Homo sapiens: one gene and its partners. The protein of the gene in region 4 purifies or fractionates together with the protein of the main gene of each other region. This does not show direct contact. Each region holds a gene or a part of one and is shown on either strand. Other genes may lie near its edges.

Evidence for each region.
Region 1: the proteins of ZNF213 (region 4) and CLPB purify together in Homo sapiens (co-immunoprecipitation; one large-scale study listed by IntAct). This does not show direct contact.
Region 2: the proteins of ZNF213 (region 4) and SUFU purify together in Homo sapiens (co-immunoprecipitation; 2 studies listed by BioGRID and IntAct, with this or other methods). This does not show direct contact.
Region 3: the proteins of ZNF213 (region 4) and PPP2R2D purify together in Homo sapiens (affinity purification with mass spectrometry; one large-scale study listed by BioGRID and IntAct). This does not show direct contact.
Region 5: the proteins of ZNF213 (region 4) and ZSCAN18 purify together in Homo sapiens (affinity purification with mass spectrometry; one large-scale study listed by BioGRID and IntAct). This does not show direct contact.

What each region holds. Positions count from the first base shown.
Region 1 is NC_000011.10:72,426,804-72,433,229, forward strand, and holds part of CLPB (mitochondrial disaggregase), read right to left. Parts: intron 3,561-6,426; coding exon 3,509-3,560; intron 1-3,508. UniProt on the Homo sapiens protein: Functions as a regulatory ATPase and participates in secretion/protein trafficking process. Has ATP-dependent protein disaggregase activity and is required to maintain the solubility of key mitochondrial proteins.
Region 2 is NC_000010.11:102,594,298-102,598,961, reverse strand, and holds part of SUFU (suppressor of fused homolog), read right to left. Parts: intron 1,826-4,664; coding exon of another isoform or gene 1,823-1,825; coding exon 1,669-1,822; intron 1-1,668. UniProt on the Homo sapiens protein: Negative regulator in the hedgehog/smoothened signaling pathway. Down-regulates GLI1-mediated transactivation of target genes. Down-regulates GLI2-mediated transactivation of target genes. Part of a corepressor complex that acts on DNA-bound GLI1.
Region 3 is NC_000010.11:131,951,649-131,958,074, reverse strand, and holds part of PPP2R2D (serine/threonine-protein phosphatase 2A 55 kDa regulatory subunit B delta isoform), read right to left. Parts: intron 2,392-6,426; coding exon 2,112-2,391; 3' UTR 1-2,111. UniProt on the Homo sapiens protein: Substrate-recognition subunit of protein phosphatase 2A (PP2A) that plays a key role in cell cycle by controlling mitosis entry and exit. Involved in chromosome clustering during late mitosis by mediating dephosphorylation of MKI67.
Region 4 is NC_000016.10:3,136,871-3,142,434, reverse strand, and holds part of ZNF213 (zinc finger protein 213), read right to left. Parts: exon of another isoform or gene 5,347-5,564; coding exon of another isoform or gene 5,155-5,346; coding exon 4,756-5,154; intron 4,082-4,755; exon of another isoform or gene 4,018-4,081; coding exon 3,894-4,017; intron 3,691-3,893; coding exon 3,617-3,690; intron 3,461-3,616; coding exon 3,337-3,460; intron 1,800-3,336; coding exon of another isoform or gene 1,747-1,799; coding exon 1,088-1,746; 3' UTR 1-1,087. UniProt on the Homo sapiens protein: May be involved in transcriptional regulation.
Region 5 is NC_000019.10:58,085,556-58,089,029, forward strand, and holds part of ZSCAN18 (zinc finger and SCAN domain-containing protein 18), read right to left. Parts: intron 3,283-3,474; coding exon 3,133-3,282; intron 1,850-3,132; coding exon 1,761-1,849; intron 1,454-1,760; coding exon 1,351-1,453; intron 712-1,350; coding exon 619-711; intron 1-618. UniProt on the Homo sapiens protein: May be involved in transcriptional regulation.

The DNA of each region.
Region 1 (6,426 bases), on a different chromosome or scaffold from region 4:
CAGACTTCTTCATATAAAGAACAGTGTGGCAAGTGGCATTCAGCTCTACTTCTCCAACCTGACCTCCAGCTTCTCTTCCACAAAAGGAGCTCCCTCCTGTGACAAGCTGCCATGGTCCTTTCTAGATCACCCTCATACCCTCCCAGACCAGAAGGCAGGTGTAGGATCAGAGTGGGGGGAAGAGGCAAAGGAAGATGAGATCACACCCAGCTGGGAGGAATCCAAGAAGGCTCTGTAAGGAAAGCAGCACTAGAGCTTTGAAAGGTGTAAGCAGAGGATAATGAATACAGATGGCAGAGGGCCATCTGTGGAGGACCCACATCCAGGGCCCATGGACTGAAGATTCCAGGGTGTCCTTAAAGAGGAGGATCGAATACCTCCCCCTGGGAGCAGAAGAGCATTAGGCTGCTGCCCTTCACTATCCAGAACTTTCCCAAGACTCTGGGGCTAAGGACAGGAGCTGGGGGAGGTCAAGTAGAGGCAGACACAGTACAGAGCCCCAGAGAGGTCAAGTGGGGAAGAAGGGTAAAGCACGACATTATTTACGAGGTCTGAGTTTTGCTCTAAATACTGATATTATTGACCATATCAATCATATACACAGTGACCCAACCATGTGTAACCTACAGTCATGCGCTACACAATGATGTGTTTGTTAACGATAGACTGCATGTATGAGGTGGTCTTATAAGATTATAATGAAGCTGAAAAATTCCTATCCTCTTGTGACGTTGTAACTGTCTCAACATCATAGTGCAACAAATGACCTTTTCTGTATTTAGGTATGTCTAGATACATAAATACTTACCATTATGTTACAATTGCCTACAGTATTCAGGGCAATAACGTGCTATACAGATTCCTAGCCTAGGAGCAACAGGCTATACCATATAGATTAGGTGTGTGGTAGGCTATTACCATTTAGGTTTGGGTAAGTATACTCTATGATGTTCACACTGTGATGAAATTGCACTACTCAGAATGTGTCCCTATTGTTAAGCAAGGCATGACTGTATGTGTAAATTCAAAGAAATAAATGAGTATGGGATTCTGTCCTGCTATAGGCAGGTCTGTTGGGCAGAGCTAAGAGCCCAGGACATTGAAGAAGAAATAAAGAGCAGCATGAACCACCTGTACAGAGTCTAGGGTACAGAAAGGCTGAATAAGGACCTACTGTAGGAATTCCAGAAAGTTTCCTTCTAGCAAGGATGGTCAGGCTCCCTTTACCCCCACTGCCCCCAGACCTGGCTCTGTTCGCAGGAAGAACTATAACTGGTGGGTTACATGTCTGTTTCCTTGAGACCAGGGCCTGGGTCACCATCCCCATCCCCCATCTGCAGTGCCCAGCAGAGGCCCACTCACTCTTTCATAATCAAGAGCTGCTTTGGGTGAGGGGGAGGGAAGGATGTCCTCATTCAGGCCCTCATCATCTTGAATCTGTCTTTACTGAAACAGAAACAGCCTCTTAACAGATCGGCCCTCAGCCTTTTCCCAATGCAGTCCATCCTTCACTCCTCTGCAAGTCAGCCTTAACTGGGTCATTCCCCTGCTCAAAAACTTCCCACGTCTCCCCACTGTGTACAGAGTAAGAGTTCAAAACTCCTCACCCTGGGCATGGCAGGCCTTGCACATTCCAGCTTCTCTCAGACAACCTTCCCTCTTTTCTGACACCCTGTACAAATCCCACCTCAGGAGCATCAACATATTCCGCAGGCCCAGCAGCCAGCCAGCATCTGCTTCCCGCCTTTGCTTAGCTTGCTCCTGGCTCTGTGGTCTTGTATGAGATGGGGGCTGAGGGCAGGTCTGTGCCTCGCTCATCTCTGATGTCCTCACATGGAGTGAAGGGAGATTCTGACAGGGTCATCCTGACCAAGTGAGGTGGGACAAGAGGAGGCAGGAGAAAAGCAGGCTAGAGCCTGGGGACACACATGAAAAGCCCCCCCAGACACTATCCACACGAGAATGAATGTTCAGAAAAATTGTCTGAATCACACATACACCGTTAAGTTCAATTACTTTCTGTATTTTTGGGATGGGTGTTTAATTGCTATTAGAAAAACATGTATTTGAAAGAACTAAATAATCAATGCCTGGCAGCTCAATGGAATATGGTAGTGGCATCCCCTGGGGGATGGAAGAGTGGATTCCCAACATTGCTGCTCTGCAAATGCCCTGCCAAAAGGGGAAAGTCGCAGCCCGGCAGCCCTTCGCAGTAGCCAACAGGTGATTCCAGGGTCAGCAAGGGTCAGTTTCCATACCCGTACTCCTGTACTGCAGCAGAATGAAGCAAAGCACATCTGTTTCTGGAGGAATGAAGATGCCACACACAGCCTGCAGTTATGAATGGCTCTTATAACAACAGGATGACATCTGTGCTTGGTTTTTAAGATGCATCATCGCATGTTTATTAAACTATTGCTCCAACATATTTATTTGGCTACAAAACAACTCCCAGCCCATATTTCCAAAAGTGGTTTATTAAAAACTAAGGCTTGAACATTAATACCCAAAAGCACCCTTGAGAATCAATAATAATGCTGCAGATAAAATGAAAGGGAATCAAAGCAGTAAGTCTTGGTGGGGTGGGCTGCTTTTCAACACTTTCTTGTATGTTCAGGAAGCTAAGGTGGGGAAGAACACCAAGGGCCTGTGGCACTGGGTGTGGAAATAGCCACCCCAACACCTGACTTCCTGTCTAACATGCAGACATGATGGCAAGGAAGGGGGGTGTCCTATGGCCACCTAGCTCTATATAAATGGCCAAGAGAGGCCAAGGTTAGGCCCAGTGGGGGGCATAGTTTCAACAAGAATAAGACCTCTGCCCTTAACCAACAGCCCTGTAACTGATGCCCCATGCTGGCCCCAGTCTGAGCATCCATCCTGGACACAGACTCTGCCCTATACCTGGCACTGGGCTGAGCCGAGTTGAATCTTGCCCTTGCCAAATAATAAGCCTCAAATTCAACCTGCCAGTGGTCACTGGAGACTAGCTGAGCCAGTGAAGCTACAGAAATGCAGTCTGTCCCCGGGCAAAGCCAGGTATGGGCCCCTGGCCCTGCAGGCAGGCATTTCTAGCCCCAGACCTTCTGGCAGATGGTCTCTTCCAGCTCTGTCCCAAATCCCCAAGCCTTTCCATAGATGCCGACCTGCAACCTGTCCAGGCAGCAAGCAGTAATACATGGCCATTCCCAAAGAAATGAGCACAAATCAGAAGATTCAGAGAAGAACCCAAAGGATATGGGGGCTGAAGGGAGTCCAAACCAACCCAGTGAAGAACAAAATAGCTGAAGGATCCAGGGATGTTTGGGAGCTGACTCCCTACCGAAAATATCCAAGGGGTGATCTGGGTAAAGGAAGCCCAGGTGACTCTGTGACTACAGAGATGTCACAGGGGACAGTTCCCAGCTTAGGGTAAGGATTTCCTCCAAAGCAAAGTCATCACACGAGAAGAGGCTCGCCCTGCTCAGCCTCTCCTGTAGGGGAGAGCAAGGCCTGGGGTTCAACTCACCTGCTGACTTCTTGCATATTGTTGGCACGGGCAGCTTCCAACAGGGCTGCATCTGAAGAGAAAGGGGGCACTGGTCAGATCCGCGGCCAGGACATACCCATCTCAGGACTGCGTGGAGGGCCCACTAAGACAGTGGCAGTACTTTAGAAACGTGGACTTTGACAAGCAAACTGATGTCACAATATATAATGAGAAACGAATCATTCCCTCCCCACATGGTGTCCACTGTTAACAACCTGACTTCCACACCTTTCTACTACAGAGCCCAAACTCTTCACTCCTCTCATCATAGAGGGAATGCAGGTCAACTGCTAGCACCACGTCTTGCCTATGGTAAATAATGTGCTCTTCATAATCTATGAAGCTCTGCATATGCTTTATGTTCCTATAAGAGTTATTACTAAAGATTCCCTGATCTTGTCCACTTTCTCCCTCAACTCCAGTTCTTCAACCCAGTTCTGAATCTTGATGTCAAGTCATAAACCCAAAAGGAAAGGTAGAATGGAGAGGAGCAAGCAGGGTGTAGGCCTCTCTGAGGATGGAGAGGTCTCAACTAGGAGTCTTTGAGATCTAGCTCCATTCCACTCCCACTACTCACCACGTGACCATGACAGCTCCTCTCTCTCTCAACCACAGCTTTCCTGACTGTAAAACATAGACAAAACTCCTTGCCCTGCCAGCTTCACAAGGATGTCAAGGAGATGAAATGACAGTTGAGACGTCTGCAAACTCCCCAGTGCTGAGCCCAGGGAAGGGAGACCCAAAGCAGAGGAGACACTAAGCCTAGGAGAAAAGCAACGCTAGCTAAGTGCGTCTGGCCTGGTCTGGGCAGCCTGCAGGCTGTTGCCACCACCTTGTGGCCATAAAGAAAATTGGACTGACTCAGAAAAACTCAAAAGTCAACAGGAGAGGCACAATCTTTTCAAATAGCTCAATACCAGGTACATGGAGCCCTCTGTGCCCAGCCTGGTTCTGAGCTACACTGCTGGGCAGTGGGCGGATTCATAGCCAGCCCTGACTCAGGGAACTCTCAGTCCAGCCAAAAGACTCACTCATGAGCAAATGCACTGGAGTAGAGTGAAAGAGCAGGATCTGGAGACAGTCAGACCTGGGGTCTAGCCCAGCTCTGTCGCTTATTTGCTGTATAACCTAGCCCACCTATCTAACCTCCTGAGCCTTAGTTTCCTTATCTGTACAATACACCTTATCATGCATATGAAAGCCAGTCCTGTGGTTCAGACATTGATGCCTCCTGGCCTAGATTCCAGGGACAGGTCCTTTCTACTTACCTTACCGGATGTACCTAAAGCACATACCCAAGCATGGCTCAGACAGCCACCAGCTGGGAGGGGATCAAGCCTTCCTTAGAGATGGCTATATCCACTCTCCCTTCACTCTGCAGAAAAAAATGTGGCTTCTACAAGGTTACAGAGTGAGGAATGAGCTAAGAACCAGGGCCTCCTGGCTTCTAAAAGGGTTCAGTTTCTACCACACTGCACTGAGGGTCAAAACTCTAAGTCAGGGGACAGGGTAGCTGGCAAGTCAGTTCCAGCAGGAACTGGTCACGGCTTTGACCATTATCTATTTTGGTAAATAGACCCTGGTATTCTTGCTGGAGTTCATAGGCCATAAAGTCCAGTTGGGAACCCCCAGGAACTTCTTAGGCAAGACCTCACCAAATACACTGGACTCAGAACATTCCCTGCTCATGAACCTTCCATAACTCTCCACTGCCTACAGAAGAAATTCCAACACCCTCACCTACCCCACCCCTGACTGGCATCCAGGCCCCACTCCATCTGCTCTCATCTAATTCCAAAGACCTTATCCTCCAACCAAGCTGGCTGCTCTGCTGGCCCCTGCACACACCATGGTGCCCCGAAACTGTTATTTCCATTCCCTGAAGCCTTTGCATGGAATATAATCCAACTCTCACACATTTACTGAGCACCTACTAAGTTCCAGACACTGTGGTGGGCAAATGATGTCTAGGTATTCGGGAAAGTTGCTAGTATAACCTGAAAAAACAAAAGAGAAGATACATTTCCTGCTCTCATGGGGCTCAAAAGATCACTCCCCTTTCCGTTTCTACTTCATCCTTCAGAACTCAAGTTCAAATTTCCCATCCTCTGGGGTCTCCAATACTCCAGAAAGGCTTTCCTGACCCTACTGGCCCTCTGATCCCCCAACGACACATAGCACCACTCACCAGCCCTACATTCCAACTGCCTGCACTGTCCCCTTGACTGATTTTGTGTTAAGTTAGGACTTCCCACACACCTAGCCTAAAACTAGACACACAGTGGGTACCCCCAAAAATGCTGGAAGTTATAGGATTACAACATGCCTAAGCTCGATGCCCTTAGTGTCTATTTCAAAACCCTCATTTTGTAGATGAGGAAACAGAGGACCCGTGAGGAGAAGCAAAAGTCCAAATTCACAATGAGAGTTAGACACAGAACCAAAACAAGATCCCCAGTGTTGTCTCTCCCAGACCAAAGTCCTTCCTTTACAATTGGCCACATCAAACGAATCAAAGTCAAGGCACTCCCTACTCCCCAACTCTTGCTCCAAATTCTCAGAGCTTGGGGTGCATGGAATCTATGGACACCATGCCTCAGTCTTTCTTCTTGAGGAACAACTAAGAACCTGAATGGCTGGACTCACATAGGTCATCAGTCTGGCTCTCTGTCCACTCTCTCAGCTGCTGCTTAGCTCCCCGGATCCAAATGAGATGCTAATCGGGATCAGCCAGTCCCCCAGCAGTTGCCCTTGGGCCTCCAGGAATCCACCTTCCTTCTCCTGCCAACTATCCCACATGGCAAGATCACCTCACAGCATGTGAGACCAGACACAGCAAAATCCTGAGACTGACAGACTCAGGCCGCTGAACTCCAAAAAGAGTCAAAATAACAGTA
Region 2 (4,664 bases), on a different chromosome or scaffold from region 4:
TTCAAGTCAGTGAGATGCTAAGATCATCTCTCCACCTTGGTCTATCCCAGGAAACTCTGCCTCTCCATGGAGAGGCAAGGGCCAGGAAGTGAAAGAGTTCCCTTGGTGGGATTATTTCTTTGTAAGGTGCTTTGCTGGTCTTTGGGATGAAGCTTACTAGTCTGGTCCCCTGTATTGAGATTTGGATCTAAATTTACCTCTGCAAACTGTAAACAGATACAAAAAAGCAAATTAAAATTAGTTGCTCAAAGAGTGGCCTTAGAGTGGGAAGGAGATGATTACTAACTTTTCTAACTATTTGACTTGTTACAGTGGAATGGATTACTTTTACAATTTTTAAAAATAGCCAGTAATGACTGAAATTTTAGACAAGACTATGACTCCCTCTTTAAATCACCTCTTTTGTCAAAAGCAACCAAATGATTCCAATAACTGTATACCCTCTCTTTGAGCCTCCAATAGGCTTGGCATGCCATTAGAACAAACAGGAAGGAAAGAAAGGGCTTGGCCGGGTGCGGTGGCTCACATCTGTAATCCCAGCACTTCGGGAGGCTGAGGCGGGTGGATTGTTTTGAGCTCAGGAGTTTAAGACCAGCGTGGGCAACACAGCGAAGCCCTGACTCTACAAAAAAATACAAAAATTAGCTGGGCGTTGGTGGCTCACGCCTGTAGTCCCAGCTACTTGGGATGCTGAGGCTGGAGAATCACTTCAGCCTGGGAAGCAGAGGTTGCAGTGAGCCAAGATCAACCCACTGTACTCCAGCCTGGGCAACAGAGACCCCTGTTTCAAAGAAAAAAAAAAAGAAAGGGCTCAAATATTTGCACTAGGAGTTTAAGTTTGTCCTTTACAGAACGAACAAAAACCTTTTATAAGTGTTATCATATATGTAAGGATTTTATTCAGGGCTGTAGACATCTTATTCTTCAAAAAAAGAAAAGATGGAAGAATGAAGAAAGGAAGTAGACAAAGAAGCTGTCAACACATGTATATGTAAGTGGCTGCTTCTCCTTTGCAGTTAGCTGGGGACGCCCTCTACTAAAAACCACAACTGTTTCTGTAGCCAAGATCAGCACAGGGAGATTCCAACAGGACAGCCACATCCTCCTTCCCAAAGACCCCATCCGGAACACGGTGGGTCCAGAGGCCCTGCCCACAGCCCCTAACCCTGTATCTATATGACAGGAGGTGGGCAATTTGCAAGCCAGCCTCACACTCAGGCCTCATTTGTTGAAGGCCTGGGAGGGCCCGAGGCCAGAGTGATCCTTGGATCTGGCATGGCCTTCAGGCCAGAGCTGGGCCCTGTGTCAATTCCGTGGGTGGCCGACACTTTTCTCTTGCACTTGGGTGGACTATGGACTTTTCCTGTAACTGTTCTGAGGCTTCCACTCACCTCCATGACCTCAGATTGCAAAGGGCATATCTAAAACACAACGGTGCCTGCTGGTGATGCATTTGAAATACACACAGGAAACACAACTAGGAATGGGCCAATAAAGCTCCCTTAATTCCGCCCTGCTGGAAGACTTCACTTGCTGTTTAAATCATGCCAGGAAATAAACTATTGAATGGGTTGTTTTTGTTAGAGACCCATCCTAGAGAGACTGGAAACCAGGCCCTGGGGAAAAGGAAGGAGGAAGGCTGGTGGAATGCTGAGTGATGGCTCCCACCTTTGCCAGAGAGTCGCCGGGGCTGTGTGCCGATGCAGATGCTCCGGCTGTCCTCGTCATCCTCGGGGGGCCGGCTCAGGTCATCCCAGGCACACTTGGCACTGACACCACTCAGGTTGGAGCCATCTGTCTCGATGCCTTTGTCAACTCTCTCCTGCTTGAAAAGAACCAAAGAGCCAGAGTTCTTTCAGAGAACTGGTGACCCAAGGTGACCACCCTTTCAGCCACTGCTCTTACAGTATTTACTGAGCCCTTGTGGTGCTGAGCATGGGACAAATGCTGGAGAGCAGGATCTCTGACCTTGTTCTGCCCTGGTTACCAATGCATGATGGTCTCTGCCAGCTCCTGGACTCCTCCAGGGGAACCAGGGATTAGGGGAAGCCAGGAGGAATGCAAATCCCAAGGGAAACATCTCTTCTACCATCAGCCTTCCAGCACAATGGCCTCTACCTGTTTCAGAGCCCCAAACCTGTCCCCGCCACGCTGGCTGGTGGGGCTGATGTGGCCATGAGAGAGCCTACTTCTCTGAGGAGAGGTGTGATCCTTCCTCTCCTCCCGATCTTCAGGCAGAACCTCCCAGTCACTGCTATAGAAAACAGGGTGGAAGCCTGCCACAGGCAACAGGCCACACCTGCAGTTTCCCCTTCTAACAGCTAGAGGGTGTGGTCACACAGGGAAGAGCCACTGGAGAACAAAGGCTGGACTTCCCTAGATGCATTGGTTCCCTTGTTTAGCAAAGGACTCTGGATGGAGATTCCTTCCCATTTCTTAGACTGAAATGGGGGCCTAGAGTGCAGTGACTATCTGCAGACACCCTTCTCTCCCCATCGAGACCCTGCCTTTGTGCAGGCCTTGGTACTGCTGAGTACAAACACTCTCCAAATGGCTTCAAGGAAGAGTTGTACTCAAAACATCCCTGGATTTTCTGGTAAAACACAGTTCATTGATGCTGGACCTTGAATTAAAAGTCATCTGGAAGGCTCTATGTCCATGTGGGCCAAATCAAGCTTGTGACTGAGCATCTCAACAATAATCTGTGCTTCCCGGCTCCACAGGTACCACACTGGCCTGCTGATCAGCCCAGAAGCCCCATGTGGGAGAAGTACAGGTACTGTCCTTATTTCCTGGGACCAGTCAGCAAGTGGCTCTGCCCCAGACGCCTCCTTCCCATCAGTCATCTCCTCCTTTCAAGTGCTAATGCTGGCCTGGGCAAAGCTGTGGGTTCCGAGCAGGAAGAGGCTAAGCAGGGAAGCGCTCTGTGTACTCTGGGCAGGGAGCATGTATACCCTGGTGTGCTCAGGGGATAGTCTGAGCTTTTTCCTCTGCACTGGCTGCCCTGGGGTCCCTCACTTAGGTAAAGAGTTGCAGACAGACAATTCTTGGCTCAACTTGTCTGGGCTATTTACTTTATAAGTAAAAAGAAAAAGTTAAGACCCAGAAGGCGAGGGACTTATTTGGGCACACAGCTGGTTAGTGTAGAGCTTGAATCACAGGAATATATGCCAGCTCTAAAGAGACTGATAGCAAGCAGGCCCCAGAAAGGCACAGTGAATACAGAGGAGTTCACACTTGGTGCACAGAGCCACCAGGAAAGAAAGCTGTCCTTTGTTCCTGTGGGACCCTGGCTTGCTTTCAAAGACCACTAGGTGCTCCGGGTCCTGTGGGCTGCTCTCAGGGGATCCTGCAGACTAGGAAGAACAGCCCTTGGCATGGAAGGACAGCTGTTTACCCTACTAGTGCAAAGGACCAGGTTCTTTCTTAGTACTTGGCACTTATGACAGGGGCCAAACAACGGCCCACAGTGCCCCATGCTGGATCCCAGTGTGGCTACAGAACAAGGGCTTAGGGAAAGATAGCCTTCCTGGTTCCTGGTTCTTGCATATGCAGAAGATACAAGGAAACCAAGTTTAAAGCAGAGAGAACAGAGGATCCTGGCAGCAGTTTGAAATGTTCAGTGTTAAAGGCACTAGGAAAACAGAGGAGCATCATCTGTGAATGAAGAGGATTTATGCCCAAGAACTCACAAGTCTACAGTGAAGAACTCAGGGGCTGCTGGCTACATGTCCATCTGCCACCTTTCTCTTGCTCTAACACATGGAACTCCCGGCAACTGCCTGTGGCCTACCAGATATTTTACAGAAGCATGGCAGGTTTAGAGATGGCAATGACCTGCATTTGGTCAGGGGAGTAGAAGGAGCCAGACACCAGGCAGGTAACATTATTAGCTGTCTGTGGCTCCTGCTTCAAGAGAAGCCCATAAGAAAGGCAGTTATGGGCCAGGCGCACTAGCTCAAACCTGTAATCCCAGCACTTTGGGAGGCCGAGGCGGGCGGATCATCTGAGGTCAAGAGTTCGAGACCAGCCTGGCCAACATGGTGAAACCCTGTCTCTACTAAAAATACAAAAAATTATCTGGGCGTGGTGGTGGGCGCCTGTAATCTCAGCTACTCGGGAGGCTGAGGCAGGAGAACTGCTTGACCCTGGGAGGCGGAGGCTGCAGTAAGCCGAGATTGTGCCACTGCACTCCAGGCTGGGTGAGAAGAGCGAAACTCCGTCTCAAAAAAAGAAAAGGCAGTTACGTTCTTGTGGCTTTCAAACTTTACCTGCATGACAAAGGAATGCTTCTAAAACAGCAAAGATGACACTGAAACAATGTCCAGGTGGGCCACAGGGAGTGGGCAGCTGCCAGCCTGTGTGTCTAAGGTGCCAATCTTTCCAGGCTAGGAGCTCTGCATCTGACTGTCCAAGATAGAAAATGTGGCGAAAATGGGGATAGGACCATTAGACCAATCAGCCCTCACTCCTGCAGCTGAGCCATGGAGTCAGTATCACCTACACTACTGTCTGGTACAGGGCGGTGGTGGCCGTGGTGGCTCCCTAAAAGAAAGTCTGGGAGGCAGGAGAATGAATACTGGGCAAGCAAGCAATATCCACTACACTTATCTTTTATTGCTGGCAATCTAATTTTTTAAGCCAATATATAATTTACATACAAT
Region 3 (6,426 bases), on a different chromosome or scaffold from region 4:
TCATCTCCACATGGGGATGGGGGATCAGCACACACCTTCATCTCCACAGGGGGACGGGGGATCAGCACACGCCTCCATGTCCACAGGGGCACGGGGGATCAGCACACCCCTTCATCTTCACAGGGAGATGGGGGATCAGCACACACCTTCATCTCCACAGGGGGACGGGGATCAGCACACACCATCTCCACAGGGGGACAGGGGATCAACACACCCCTTCATCTCCACATGGGGATGGGGGATCAGCACACACCTTCATCTCCACAGGGGGATGGGGATCAGCACACGCCTCCATCTCCACAGGGGCGCGGGGGATTGGCACACCCCTTCATCTCCACAGGGAGATGGGGGATCAGCACACACCTTCATCTCCACAGGGGGACGGGGGATCAGCACACCCCTTCATCTCCACAGTGGGACAGGGGATCAGCATATCCCTTCATCTCCACAGGGGGATGGGGATCAGCACACACCTTCATCTCCACAGGGAGATGGGGGATCAGCACGCACCTTCATCTCCACAGGGGCACGGGGGATCAGCACACACCTTCATCTCCACAGGGGGACGGGGGATCAGCACACACCTTCATCCAGACAGGGGCATGAGGAATCAGCACACACCTTCATCTAGACAGGGGGATGGGATGGGGGATCAGCACACACCTCCATCTCCACAGGGGCACGAGGGAGCAGCACACACCTCCATCTCCACAGGGCACAGGGGATCAGCACACACCTCCTTCTCCACAGGGGCACAGGCAATCAGCACATACCTTCATCTAGACAGGGTGACGGGCGATCAGCACACACCTCCATCTCCACAGCAGCAGGAGGAATCAACACACACCTTCATCTCCACAGGCGGACGGGGGATCAGCACACACCTCCATCTCCACAGGGGCACGGGAGCCCGACTCCCCACTCCCCTCGGGGACACGTAGTGGGCGTGTGTTAAATCCCACGGAAGCAAGCTCTGGTCACTCAGCATTGGTACAGCTCTGTATTATTTGTCTTGGAAAATCTTGATTTCTGGTATCAAAGATCCTACTTTGAAAATAAACCAACGTACTGGTGGCATCGTGTAATTAAAATTGCTTAATTTTGCTGGCTTGAAATGCAGGATGAAATTTAGCATGCATGTAATTTTAGCAATGTTTAAAAAGTATACTTTCCCCAAAGTGCTTTTTCAAAAGCCTTAGAAAGCAAGCACGTATTTCTTCAACTGTAGTGAATTTGAAGCTACTTTAAACCAGGCTTACTGGATGGCAGCAATTTTGGTTCTTCCTTGCAATTTTCTTTCTCAGAGGTGGCCTCGGTTCTGGCTTTTCCCAGACCTTACCTGGTGTATCTGATGGGCTACTTCTACAGAAACACAGCGGGCAGCAGCTTGGGGACAGAAATGCTGCACACATACCCCCACGCTGCCAAAGAAGGACACACATTTCTCAAACAGTTAGTTCCAAAGAAGAACCCTGCATAACTTCATTCTATGCAATAAAATTAAATAAAAAGACAATACTTCTGTTTGGATTTAAAAACACTTTATAGTGTGTTGTTTTTATTGAGCGCTCACACCCGAAGGGGTGGCGGCGGATGCTGTGGGTGAGTGGGGCCGCCTGAGCCTGCTCGGGCCACATCCACACATCCACAGAGTCCACCTGGACTCGGAGGAAGGCCGAGAGGACACGGACGGTGGCCACACCACGCTGCAGTGAAGGCCCAAGTGTGATGGCAGAGAAAGAGGGAAAGTTGGAGAAAGAGCGGTATCTGACAATAACTTTTCTCTTGGATGTTAATTTTTTGGTCTATAAATTGGAAAGGAAGGCTCGGACTGAAATAAATACATTTATTCTGAGTAATGACCTTTTGGGAGCAGTGTCCGTCAACTCTGCTTCGAGAGCGTCTCCACGTGAGCAGCAGCGCCTGTCTCGCGCCTCGCCGAGGCGGAACCACACCGGGCCTCCAGCGGAGGCGGCTTTCTCCTGTGTCTGTGAAGGGAAGTAGCAGGTGCGTCACTGTTCTTAATGGAGCGGACAATGATGCCTTTTCTCTGACAGAAAAATGTCCGGCTTAACTATGCAAGACAAGACTTGGTCCTCACGTTCGCGTCTCTAGTTGATTTTGTCCTGGAATATGTACAAGTTATTGGTGGCAGCCACGGCAATGACATTGTCCACGGGGTGCCAGGCTGTGTGCAGGATCTTCTTGTTGAAGTCCAGACTGTCCACACTGATCTCGTCTTTCCTCCGCTTACCCCCCGTACACACCTTCCGGGGTTTGAGGCTGGCGCGCGGTTTGCTGCTCTCTCTCGAGGCCTCCAGGGTCACATCCCTCCGCGTGTCTCTATCAAACATCCTGAAGAAGTTGTTATAGGACCCGGTCATGATGGCGCTGTTCAAAACAAGAGCAGACAGCAGCACTCCTCAGTGGGGGGAGCGGCAGCAAGGACTCAGACCCCACCCCTGGGGTGCACAGCGCACGCCACCCTCCCCCACAACCCAGTTACTTTCAGAAATCAGGAATGATCAATCACAATGGGCAGAAGAGAAATGCAGTGAAAATGTGTACCGAGCTTTATCTATAATCATGTCAGTAAGAATCCATGTCACAGGAGAAACAAAATAATGGAGTCACACTTTTAACATTAGTGTATTTTTTGAAACAACCCCACCTATTTATCTCACTCATGAATAACAGCACAGTTTATTTTTAAGCCTTATGTTCTGCAATTTGTCAATGATCCATAATGACCTGAACATAATCCTTATCATGTTCAACAGTTACTAGTCATATCTGTCAATGTTTCTTTGGAGTTAAACTGCTTTTCTATTAATTTCAAAAAGTTTCTTTCAAATGAGGCAACGGATAGAAATAGTAAAAATCCACTGGGCAAAGTGTGGCAGAATTTTAGAACAACTGCATTTCACACACATTCCAGACAATACAATACCGTCCATGCTTTTGTTTCTTCAAGATCAACTGTAATGGCTTTCAAATGTCTCTGCTGTCGAAAAATTCTACTACCGCACACATCCTCATGATATAACTTCATAATACTGGTAAAAACCTCTGCAATCTTACATTTTCTACAAAAATGACAGAAAAATAGCTGAATGATGCAAACGCTGCCATGATTTGACCCATGGCTTCATGAGTCCAGTTTCTGATGAAAGATGTGTTCAAACAATGCCCTTCTGGTTTCTCCAGCCGTCCTTGAAGCTCGCCTCCTCTTCCTATTTTGACACTAACCCGCGCCCTCACGTCCTGCCCCCATGGTCATGCGCGGTGAGAGGCCTTTCACGCTGGCGCGTCTTCAAGGTGCCATGAGAAAGAAGCGGGCCGCTTCCCTTCCATGGCCCAGCACTGACCCTGGCTGCTGGCAAATACCTAGTGTCTGACTGACCTTGTCTAAAACTTCAAAGCAGGGGAAAAAAAAAAAAAAAAGACGAACTCAGAGAAGAGAAACTGCATTCAGCGATCCATGTTTATTTCCCATCTCCTGCTTCCATCCAGGAGCCCACAGCGCCACAGAGGCGGGAGACACAAGGTGTGCCCAGCGCCCTCCAGCAATGCCAAGCTGTGCACGTGGTCTTGGAACAGGGGTATGCAGCCAAGTTGGCACGTGAGGGCCATTGACTGGGGGTTCCCCAAATTAGTTTCCACATAAAACACAATGTTTACGAAAGGGTAAGTAATAAGAATGTGTGAATCTGAAGCTTACATTTATGTTATTAAAACTCAACAGTAACCATTATTCAGAACACAGACGACAGATGATGTATGGCCGACACTGACTGGAATTGCTGGTGCATGGTAATAACGAAAAGCACATCAGCTTTCATACAGATTTATGATCACTTTTAAATTCTCGACAGATAGTGCCAGCCCCAGAGTGGGTGTTTCCACACTGCAAACAAGGGCGCTGCCCAGCAGCCTGGTGCTGGCCCAGGAAGGGAACAGCACAGACAGAGACACAGGCGTAAGCACATAACTGGTTCTGTGGGGCGACCTAGAACACAAGAAGGCGCTGCCACACGGAGAATCAGGATTGGGCTGAGGCAGCACTGAAACGCCTCACTCCCCTTCATCGCATCCCTCAACAGAAGTTTCCAGGTAGGAAGACTGGCGTGTTTTTGAGAGTGAATGGACTAAGCAAATGTTACTGGGAACGCTTTTAGATGTTCTTGGGGATATGTAATCTAAGGGTATTTTGCAATATTTGAAATATATCAAGAGGAATAAAAAATACAGTGACTATCCATGTACCCGCAAGTCACTGCTAAGACAGTGAACCCCCCGCACACTCGCAAGTCACTAAGACAGTGAACCCCCGCACACCAGCAAGTCACTAAGACAGTGACCCCCCCACACACCCGCAAGTCACTGCTAAGACAGTGAACCCCCCGCACACTTGGAAGTCACTAAGACAGTGAACCCCTGCACACCCGCAAGTCACTAAGACAATGAACCCCCGCATACCCGCAAGTCACTGCTAAGACAGTGACCCCCACACACACAACCACAAGTCACTGCTAAGACAGTGAAACCCCCTGCACACCTGCAAGTCACTAAGTGAACCCCCCGCACACCCACAAGTCACTAAGACAGTGAACCCCCGCACACCTGCAAGTCACTGCTAAGACAGGGACCCCCCGCAAGTCACTGCTAAGACAGTGAACCCCCCACACACCTGCAAGTCACTGCTAAGTGAACCCCCCGCACAACTGGAAGTCACTAAGACAGTGAACCCCCGCACACCTGCAAGTCACTAAGACAGTGAACCCCCGCATACCTGCAAGTCACTGCTAAGACAGGGACCCCCCCGCAAGTCACTGCTAAGACAGTGAACCCCCCCACACACAACCGCAAGTCACTGCTAAGACAGTGAAACCCCCCGCACACCCGCAAGTCACTAAGACAGTGAACCCCCGCAAACCTGCAAGTCACTGCTAAGACAGGGAACCCCCGCAAGTCACTGCTAAGACAGTGAACCTCCCACACACACCCGCAAGTCACTGCTAAGACAGTGAAACCCCCTGCACACCCGCAAGTCACTAAGACAGTGAACCCCCTGCACACCCGCAAGTCACTAAGACAGTGAACCCCCGCACACTCGCAAGTCACTGATAAGACAGGGACCCCCCCCGCAAGTCACTGCTAAGACAGTGAACCCCCCACACACACCCGCAAGTCACTGATAAGACAGGGACCCCCCCCGCAAGTCACTGCTAAGACAGTGAACCCCACACACACACCCGCAAGTCACTGCTAAGTGAACCCCCTGCACACCCGCAAGTCACTAAGACAGTGAACCCCCCGCACACCCGCAAGTCACTAAGACAGTGAACCCCGCACACCCGCAAGTCACTAAGACAGTGAACCCCCACACACCCGAAAGTCACTAAGTGAACCCCCCCGCACACCCGCAAGTCACTAAGACAGTGAACCCCCCGCACACCCGCAAGTCACTAAGACAGTGAACCCCCCGCACACCCGCAAGTCACTAGTGAACCCCCCGCACACCCGCAAGTCACTAAGACAGTGAACCACCCGCACACCCACAAGTCACTAAGACAGTGAACCCCCCCGCACACCAAGTCACTAAGACAGTGAACCCCCGCACACCCACAAGTCACTGCTAAGACAGTGAACCCCCGCACACCCGCAAGTCACTAAGACAGTGAACCCCCGCACACCCGCAAGTCACTAAGACAGTGAACCCCCCCCACACATGCAAATCACTAAGACAGTGAACCCCCCGCACACCCGCAAGTCACTAAGACAGTGAACCCCCGCACACCCGCAAGTCACTGCTAAGACAGGGACCCCCCAAGTCACTGCTAAGACAGTGAACCCCCCCGCACACCCGCAAGTCACTGCTAAGACAGTGAAACCCCCTGCACACCCGCAAGTCACTGCTAAGACAGTGAACCCCCCCGCACACCCGCAAGTCACTGCTAAGACAGCGAACCCCCCTGCACACCCGCAAGTCACTGTTAAGACAGGGACCCCCTGCAAGTCACTGGTAAGGTGGTGAACCCCCTGCACACCCGCAAGTCACTGCTAAGAGAGTGACCCCTCTGCACACCAGCAAGTCACTGCTAAGACAGGGACCCCCCTGCACTGTGTTGCCACTCTGGAAAGAAAGATGGTCTCCTATCCCATCCCCAGTTGGGGTCCTCACTTGCTAGAGTACATATGTGTCATCCCCACACACATTTATATTTTGTATACAGATTTTTTTTGTTTTTTTTTGAGACAGAGTCTCACTCTATCGCCCAGGCTGGAGTGCAGTGGCACAATCTCAGCTTACTGCAACCTCCACCTCCAAGGTTCAAGCGATTCTCCTGCCTCAGCCTCCTGAGTGGTGGGATTAAAGGCATGCACCACCATGTCCGGCTAATTTTTGTATTTCTAGTAGAGATG
Region 4 (5,564 bases):
GTGGGACACCAGTGCCGATGGAGCAGGGCGTTAGTGCTGATGGAGTGGGGCACCAATGTCAAAGGAGCGGGTCATTAGTGCCGCTGGAGTTGGGGCGTTAGTGCCAATGGAGTGGAGCATTAGTGCTGATGGAGTGGGGCGCCGAGTGGGGCATTAGTGCCGATGGAGCGGGGCCGATGGAGTGGGGCGCCGAGTGGAGCATTAGTGCCGATGGAGCAGGGCGCCAGTGCCGATGGAGCAGGGTGCCGGGGCCGATGGAGTGAGGTGCTAGTGCTGATGGAGTGAGGTGCTAGTGCTGATGGAGTGCTAGTGCTGAGTCTGGTGCAGCCCCACCTCTGGAGGAAAAGATGGCAGCCAGGCGCCCTGTTCTTGGTCTCCAGGGTTGGCCTCCTGTCGCTGGAGCCACCATTATCCTCACCAGATTGGTGGGCAGGTGGCTCTCAGAGCCTCATGCTAGGGCAAGTAGGCCGAGGGCAAAGGCAGGCCGAGTCCGTATGGCCAGGACAGGGCAGAGTGGTCATGGCCTGGAAACGGGAGTGGGAGGGGGCCAGAAAGCCCCTGCCGCCGTGACTAAGACCCGCGGTCCCACAGGTGTGGGCTGTCTCTCCCAAAGTCCAGCAGCCCCCTGGGGGGCCAAGGCCAGTCCTCCACGCCCACTGAAAGGCACAGGTTGGTAGGGCAGAGGCCTGACCCATGGACCCACCCCACAGGGTGGGGGCCAAAGAGCCACACAGTCAAATGAGGCTCGGGGGCTTCTGGGAAGGGACCTAGACCTGAGTCCTTGCCACCCTGCTGTCCCTGCCAGGAATGTGTTGGGGCTCCAGGAAACTAGAGGGGAAGAGGAACGCTAGGCGCAGAAGGGGGAAAGAGGACAAGATCGGGGGCGGGAGGGGAAGGCTTCCGTTCCCTTTGAGCGCTGGGCAGGTCCTCAGAGCCAAGCAGGGCAGGCGAGCTCCGAGTGTGAGGTACCCTGGGGTCCCTCGGACAGCCCGGGAGGTGGCCACAGATGGAAGGAGAGTCCCAGTGGTGAACAAAGCAGGATGTGCCGTGGCTGGGCCTCCCCCGGGTTTCCGGCCAAGCCAGCTGCTCACCCCACGGGCTGGGCCATCTTGGCGTGCAGGCTCTGATGCGCGATGAGGTGCGCGCGCTGCTTGAAGCTCTTGTCGCACTCTCCGCAGCCGAAGGGCCGCTCACCGGTGTGCACACGCCGATGGTCCAGCAGGTAGGAGCGCAGCGAGAAGCTCTTGCCGCAGTCGCTGCAGCCGAAAGGCTTCTCGCCCGTGTGTATGCGCTGGTGGTCGGCCAGGTAGGCGCTGCGGCTGAAGCTCTTGCCGCACTCGGAACAGGAGAAGGGCTTCTCGCCCGTGTGCACGCCTTGGTGGCGCACCAGGTCCGAGGAGCTGCGGAAGCTCTTGTCGCACTCAGGGCACTTGTGTGGCTTCTCGCCCGTGTGCGTGCGCTGGTGCCGCGCCAGGTCCGAGCCCCAGCGGAAGCGCTTTCCACACTGCCCGCAGCTGTGCGGCTTCTCGGCTGCCAGGTCCCGGAACTGGCGCCGGCGAGTGGGTGGCCGCCCCCGTCGCGCGCCCACCACTGGGCCCAGGGCCGCCCTCGGCCGGTTCTCGCTCTCCCAGGCCTCAGCCTCCTCGGGGCTCCAGGACACAGTCACGTCGCTGCCTGTCTGGCCTGGCACCACCGGCACCATCTCCTGCAGCAGGGACTTCTCACTTTGGCCTTTGAGCCCAAAACCTGCAAGGGGAAGGAGGCGACCTCTTCAGTCCCACGCGGTTCTGGGGCCAGAGCTGAGGTGAGGAAGAAACAAGGCTGGGGAAAGCTCCCTGGCCTCCAGGTTCAGAAAGCCCTGGGTTCACACAGCTGAATTCTCAGGTTCCTCATCTATAAAACAGGGATGATTGGCCAGGCGCAGTGACTCAAGCCTGTAATCCCAACATTTTGGGAGGCTGAGGCGAGCTGATCACCTGAGGTTAGGAGTTCGAGACCAGCCTGGCCAACATGGTGAAACCCCGTCTCTATTAAAAAATGCAAAAATCAGCAGGGCATGGTGGCGCACATCTGTAATCCCAGCTACTCAGGAGGCTGAGGTAGAAGAATCACTTGAACCCATGAAGCGGAGGTTGCAGTAAGCCGGGATCATGCCATTGCACTCCAAGAGCGAGACTTTGTCTCAAAAACAAACAAAAACCCAAATAAATCAGGGATGATGAAAAAATTCGGCAGAGCAGCAGTCTGAATAAGCCTCTGATCCCGCCTGCATGGGCCAGCCCCCTAAGCCATCTGTGCCCTGCAGGCCACACTGGGATCCAATGTCCCACTCTGAACCCCAGATATCAAGCTCCACAGCAGAACAGATTTATAGTAATTCTGAAACTTTTCAAGGGCCGGGCGCGGTGGCTCACGCCTGTAATCCCAGCACTTTGGGAGGCTGAGGCAGGCGGATCATGAAGTCAGGAGTTCGAGACCAGCCTGACCAACATGGTGAAAACTCGTCTCTATTAAAAATACAAAAAAATTAGCCGGGCATGGTGGCTCATGCCTGTAATCCCAGCTACTCAGGCTGAGGCAGGAGAATTGCTTGAACCCGGGAGGTGGAAGTTTCAGTGAGCTGAGATCACACCACTGCATTCCGGCCTGGCGACAGAGCAAGACTCCATCTCAAAAAAAAAAAAAAGAAAGAAAATTTTTCCCAACCGTCACAGTCGGAAACTGAGGAGCCAAACTGGTCTAGCTAGTGTGGCTCCCTTCACCACGCAGGCTCTAGTTCTCCAAACTCAACACAGATCTGGACAGAGGTCGCAGCCCATCCTCCTGGGAGTGTGACTGAACAAGATGATCCCTGATGGTGCTGAGAAGGGGCCTGGCATGGAGAGGAACCTGGTAAGTGCAGTTCTGACGAGCAGGGGCCCAGGCTGGTGAGCAGCTGGGGTTCCCCGTCAGCACCCCTGCTCCTAGCAGCCCAAGGTGGCCTCACAACTGTGCCTGATCCAAGTCCCAGCTGTGTCCCTTCAGCATCCACTGACCTGAGTCTCAGGTCCCTTATGCGTAAAATGGGGACAATACTTCCATGCACTAGGTTGTGAGACTCAAAGGAGAAGTTGCCCTTAGAGCAACTGCAGGGCTGGGCAGCGCCGGCGCCGTCCCATGCTGCATGTGGAAACGCACAAAAACTGATCATCAGCCAAGAAAGGAGTTACTCAGGCTCCTGGCAAGACCTAGGGAGAGCCTGCTTTGGAACCAGCTAAGGATGGGGTGGGAAACAAGACTGAAGTTCCAGCAGAATCGGGGGCGGCCAGCCTGGACCCAAAGGCCCTGGGTGCTTACCCAGGGTGGTGTTCCGGGAGTTCTCCCGCTTTATGTCCCAGAAGAGATCCCGCTGAGCAGGGTCCAGGGTGCCCCATTCTTCCCGGGAGAAATAGAATGGGATGTCTCCCAATGCCACAGGTCCCTGGAATGGGGTGAGAAGACCCGGCTCAGGCCTCCCAGCAGCACTGGCGGGGACAGGATGGGTCAGATGAAAGAGGCCTGATGGGACAGCAAGTCCCATTTTACAAACTCAACAGGGCCAAGTGCCTTAAAGAAGACAAAGGGACTGGTGACTCACATGGACCCCAGAGACAAAGCAGGTGTCCGTCGTCTCTCCGGGACGACCCTCTTTAAGAAGAGCAGGAGGCTGGGCTGAAGGAGAAGAATGGAGCCTTAGAAAGGCCAGCCCAGGCTTGACACCGACGCCTATGGCCTCCCCAGCCTGTGCGCATGCACACACGCCCTGGACTTCACAGAGGGAGCTGTCCTGCCTGTGACCCTTAGGGCAACGCCGGTGACAAAGCTAGGTCCCTGCCCAGCCACTCGACTGTCCACAAGAACGGAGGCTTACTCACCGCTATGGCTGTGCTGCTCCTGGGGAACAGACGGCCGCCTCCGTGCCCCCACCGTCGGGGGAGGCCCCGTGGCCTGGGATCCCCGGCCTGCAGCCTCGGGTTCCGCCTCCTCCGAGGGCACATCCTGTGCAGGAACCACAACATGCTCATCAGCCCGAGACCAGACCGGGGGAGACAGAGTTTACTCCCTGGGAAGGAGACACAGGACATGACCCTCAGGATGCTGGGGTGTGGGAAGGAGACCAATATGGTGCCCCAGGAAAAGTCCGGAGGAGAATGTGATACCAGGTAATGCTGTGTGCCCAAGGATGCTCCCCGATCATTCACGAGGCAAGAACCAGCCCTGAAAGGCCAGAATCACAGCCACTTAGCAAGGGGGTAGCTGGGGACCCTCCTGCCAAAGGCAGAACCCCATCCCCCAGCCACTCATTAGAACCTCCCCAGATGCATCCAATGTGAAGGACCCAACATCCCACAAGGTAGCAGAGGCCCCGGACAGCTCCACCTTCTCGCCCCACTCTGGAGCTGGCTCTATGCACACCCTTGTGTCCCCAGAGCCAGGCCTAGAGCAAAATGCAAATAAACATCAGCAGACCCTGCATGGAGCTAAAACCTCCTGTCTGGAACATTCGCACTTCAGCCCTATTGCTGCCTTCCAAAGCCACAAAAAATAAATCACATTTACTTTGGATCGCATCTTTCAGAAAGGCACCCATGGCACACTGTGCTTGTGTGCCTGCTCCTGGGGGCTCTGTGTCTCCCCTACCCTGTGAGCCTCTGGGAGACTTATCTCTGCAGGTTACCCACTTCTCTCGAGCTCAGATACCATCCAGGTGCCCCTGGATGTGGAAGGGCCCCTCACCTGTCGCCAGGCTTTCACTGGCTGCTTCTGTAGGTCCTCCACCAAGGCGACAGCCTCCTCACCGCTTCCCGGGTGCTGCTCACGCACCCAGCCCTGGATCTCCCCTGGCAGCACTGTCAGGAACTGCTCCAGCACCAGCAGCTCCAGGATCTGCTCCTTGGTACGCAGCTCGGGCCGCAGCCAGCGGCAGCAGAGCTCCCAGAGCTGGCTGAAGGCCTCATGAGGCCCATGCACATCCCCGTAGCAGAATTGCCGGAAGCGCTGGCGGCAGGCTTCGGAATCCCTGCCATCCTCATGCTGGGCAGATTCCTGTTCCCAGGAGGAATCTTCCACTTTCACAATCAGAAGCCCTTCTCCCTCCCCAGGGGCCTGGTCCTGGGCCTCCAAGGGGGCTGCCATTCCCCTGGCCTGAGGCTCAGGGTTGGTCGGCTTCAACCTGGGCCCCAGAACCTGTACTTTCAGTCTCCCAGAGGGATCCCCTGTGGTAGCTGGGCTGGCATCTGGATGTGTACTCCTGGGGAAAGAGCAAAATGGCAGGACTGAGGAGGAAGGATGTGGAATACACGAGCAAACCCCAGGCTGAAGAGCCATCCAGTCCCCATCCTTTCATGGCCCTGAAGCCTTTTCTAGGCTTTACTGTAATGCCTTGCTCATGTGACTGTCTCTCCTATTAACACAGGCCCACAAGCTCTCATCCCAAAGCCAGAAATCCAAAACCCGGGTGTTTCATAACTCTTTGACAGCAAAACCCAATGTCATTCATTTGGCAGCACCACCTGACCTGATATAAGCATATTTATAATCTCAAT
Region 5 (3,474 bases), on a different chromosome or scaffold from region 4:
CCGCGCCTGCTGCTGCAGATGTGGGACCTGGAGGCCTCCAACAACGGAGGCCACCGACAGGACAGGAAGGACAGCCCCACTGAGCCCGGGTTCTGGAAACCGCGCCTTTGGAGGTCTCCACCTGGCCACTAGCTTGGCCACAAGATGCACGATGCAAGGAGAGCCTGCTCAGAGCGCACCCTCCTGGAGGGAGGGGCCCGGCTGCCAGCGAAGAGAGTGGGGTCAATAGCTAAGGCCAAACCCCCCAGCGACAAGCCCCCTGGCGACAGGCACCCAGGGCCCTCCAGCCCAAGTCCGCCTCTAGGTGTTCTTGTTGGTGTGCTGGCACAGAGCCTCCAATGGGGCAGAACGGCCACCCCCGGGACCAGTCATACACAGATCCTGGCAACTAACACCACTGCCGTTTCCACCGACCAAGTCTTGGGGTGGTCTGTCATGCAGCAAGAGACCATGGACGTAACTGGATTCCTGCCTCACTCAGACACGGTGGTGGGAGAATGGTGAAGCAGTCAATGCTGAGGTCTTTGCTGGGGCTGATGGCGCTGGGAGGGGCCCCCTCAGCCTCTGAAGAAAAAGCAAACCCCACCCGGCCCTAACACCAATTCAACCCAACCTCACCTGGGAGGCTGCTTCCTTGTGGATCTCTTTCCACCAACCGGAGTTCCTCAGTGTCCAGCCTGGAGGCAGCGTCAGGCTGGGAAAGCTGATACCCTGAGTGGGGTTAAAAACCAAAGAAATAAAAGGCATCAACACAGAGTGGCTGATGGGTGTTGTGTGTCGTGGGCCAGCCAGGGCAGGCTGCAGCCCACCTCCTCTTCTCTGTACTGGGACCCCCACCAAGGCCACCTCCCTGTTAGGCCCCTGGACAGTGGAGCAAAGAAGAAGGCGAGGCTGGAAGGGCAACGGGGCAGGCGGAGGCAGGACTCAGAGAAAGCAAAGCTAAAGAAAGACATTGACAAAAATTGCTCAGGAGTCTGAGTCGGGGGGCCTCCCTAAAAGGAGGGTTTCTGGGGCAAGAACGTCTACAAAAGAGGAGACCCTTGATCAGGCCATGCAGGTGAGGCCCTGTATCTGGCAAGGAGGGTGGCAATGTGGGCGCCTTGGGGCCAGGAGGCCTTTCCAAATTCCGAGGCTTCAGTCCTACAGGCAGGGCCTGGGCAGAACTCAGATGTTTAGATCAGAAAGGGTGGGGGCTTCAGCGAATAAATTCAAGCTCCAACACGTGCAAGTTCAAATCCTGTAAGACATCACAGTGTCCCAGCCAAAGTCCCTGGGGTCACAGTCTCCTGCACCAACCCCTGCGGAAGGGGATGGGGAGTGGGGCGTGACCCCGAGGCAGGCGACTCTCACCCCACAGGAGCAGCTTCCGGTAGCTCTTCAGGTTCTCCTCGGCAGGGTCCAGGTGGCCCCACTCCCCCAGGTGCTGAGGGTCCTCTGGAAAGGACTTCAGCTTCTGAAACATTAGTCGTGGCTGAGACCTCCCACCTGCCCTAGAGAAGGGAGGACCCGCCGCAGCCCCACAGCCACAGGAGCAGGCTAGGAGCCAGCCCTGGCCAGGGACTCTAACCCAGGTGCACTGCAGGAGGCAGCCCCCTTCGCACCACAAAGATTCCGCCCTCACGCTCCCACCAGGGTGGGTTCTGGGCCTCAGCGCTGTGGACGTTTGGGGCCACAGCCCTCTGCTGAGCACTGGTGATGGGGAGGGGGATGCCTCTAAGCTGAGGCCAAGGCCCCTCACCCACCTGCTCGTGCCCACCCACCTGCTCGGTGTTGGCAGGGCCGTCCTCTTCGGTCTTTGCTTCTCTGACCCTCCTCTGTTCCAGAAACAGGGGGTCCGGAGAAAGCCAGGCTGGGGAGAAGGAGAGGCAGAGCTGAGGCAATGAGCTCCCTGTGGCCAGGTGCCCTCAAGGGTCAAGGAGCCCCCGCTGCCTCCCACACAGGCCCCAGTGTGCTTCTGTGACAGCAGCACCCAAGGCTCAACGGACACTACACCTTTCCCTGATTTACAAAGCAGCGCGGTGGCCACAGGGCTTGGGTGGCCCCAGAGATGCCCATTCAAGTCCACTGGATTCATGGAAATCTTTTTTTTTTTTGGTTTGTTTGTTTTTTAAAGACAGGGTCTTGCTCTGTCACCTAGGCTGGAGTGCAGTGGCATGATCTTGGCTCACTGCAACCTCCACCTCCTGGACTCAAGCAATCCTCCCACCTCAGCCTCCCAAGTAGCTGGGACTAAAAGTGCGGACCCGGCTAATTTTTGTATTTTTTGTAGAGATGGGGTCTCCCTATGTTGCCCAGGCTGGTCTCGAATGCCCGGGCTCAAGTGATCTGCCCGCCTTGGCTTCCCAAAGTGCTGCGATTACAGGCATGAGGCACTGTGCCTGGCCTTCGTGGAAATCCTAAAAAGCAACACCACATAGTGCTGGGCTGTATCCAGGCCAGTGGGCACCTTCCGTGCTGGTAATGAACAGCCACAAAACTTCTGGAAAACCACATGGAAGTTTCTATTTTATGTGAAATGTCGAACTCACACACCACTTGCCCAGTGGTCCTGAGGAGTCCACCCACAGTGCCCAGAGCCTCACATATGGGCACACAAGTCAGGAGGTGTCAGGGCAGCTTCACTCCAAGGGGCAGAGAGCCCACCTCTAGGATGGGGATGGGCTGAGCACGCGATGCTGGGCAACTAAAGAACCAGACCCAACCACAGCCTGGGGGACCCACCCCTCGAACAGCAAGCACTCAGACACAGCACACCACACACACAGAGCCCGACCCCAGGCCCTGATTATGCATGTGTGATGTGCAGGGAGACATGAGGGGACGTGCATCAGGACACTTGAGACCCTTTATTTTCAGAGGGTTCATGGTCGGGGGTTGGGAGATTCTTTTCTTTATGTATTGATGTTTCTTCACTATTTGTGGTAAGTATGGATGATCTGCATAATCTCTGAAGACTAATTTAATAAACAATGTCTAACATTCAGAGAAACTACAGGAGGAAGTCCCAATGATAGCATGGACCATGGAGCCCCTGACTCCCTGGCTGCCCTTCTGCCCTCTCCCAACCACAGGCCTCTGCCCAACACCCCACCTAAGGCCCAGCAGAGGCTGCCAGGCTAGCTGGGCACTCACGTGTCTCAGAAGGTGCCGGGATCTCCCCAGCTCCAAGGGCCTGGCTGGGGCTCGCGAGCTCGCCTGGTAGCAGCAGAGGGTCCATGTGCCTCTCGTACACTCCATCGCTAAGAATTGAGGATGAGCCCGCAGGGGAGCCCAGCAGCATCCCTGTCAACAGTGGAGGGACCTGTGACCCCAAGAGGTCAGGACACGTGCCAACAACAATCACACAGTTAAACCACAGGGACCTGCAGGCTCCAGGGCCACATCACTACCCATCCTGCACCTCATCTTGGACCAGGAGACCTCCAGCCTGCAAAGTACCCAGAATATTTACTGTTAAGAGGCTGGGGGCCGGGC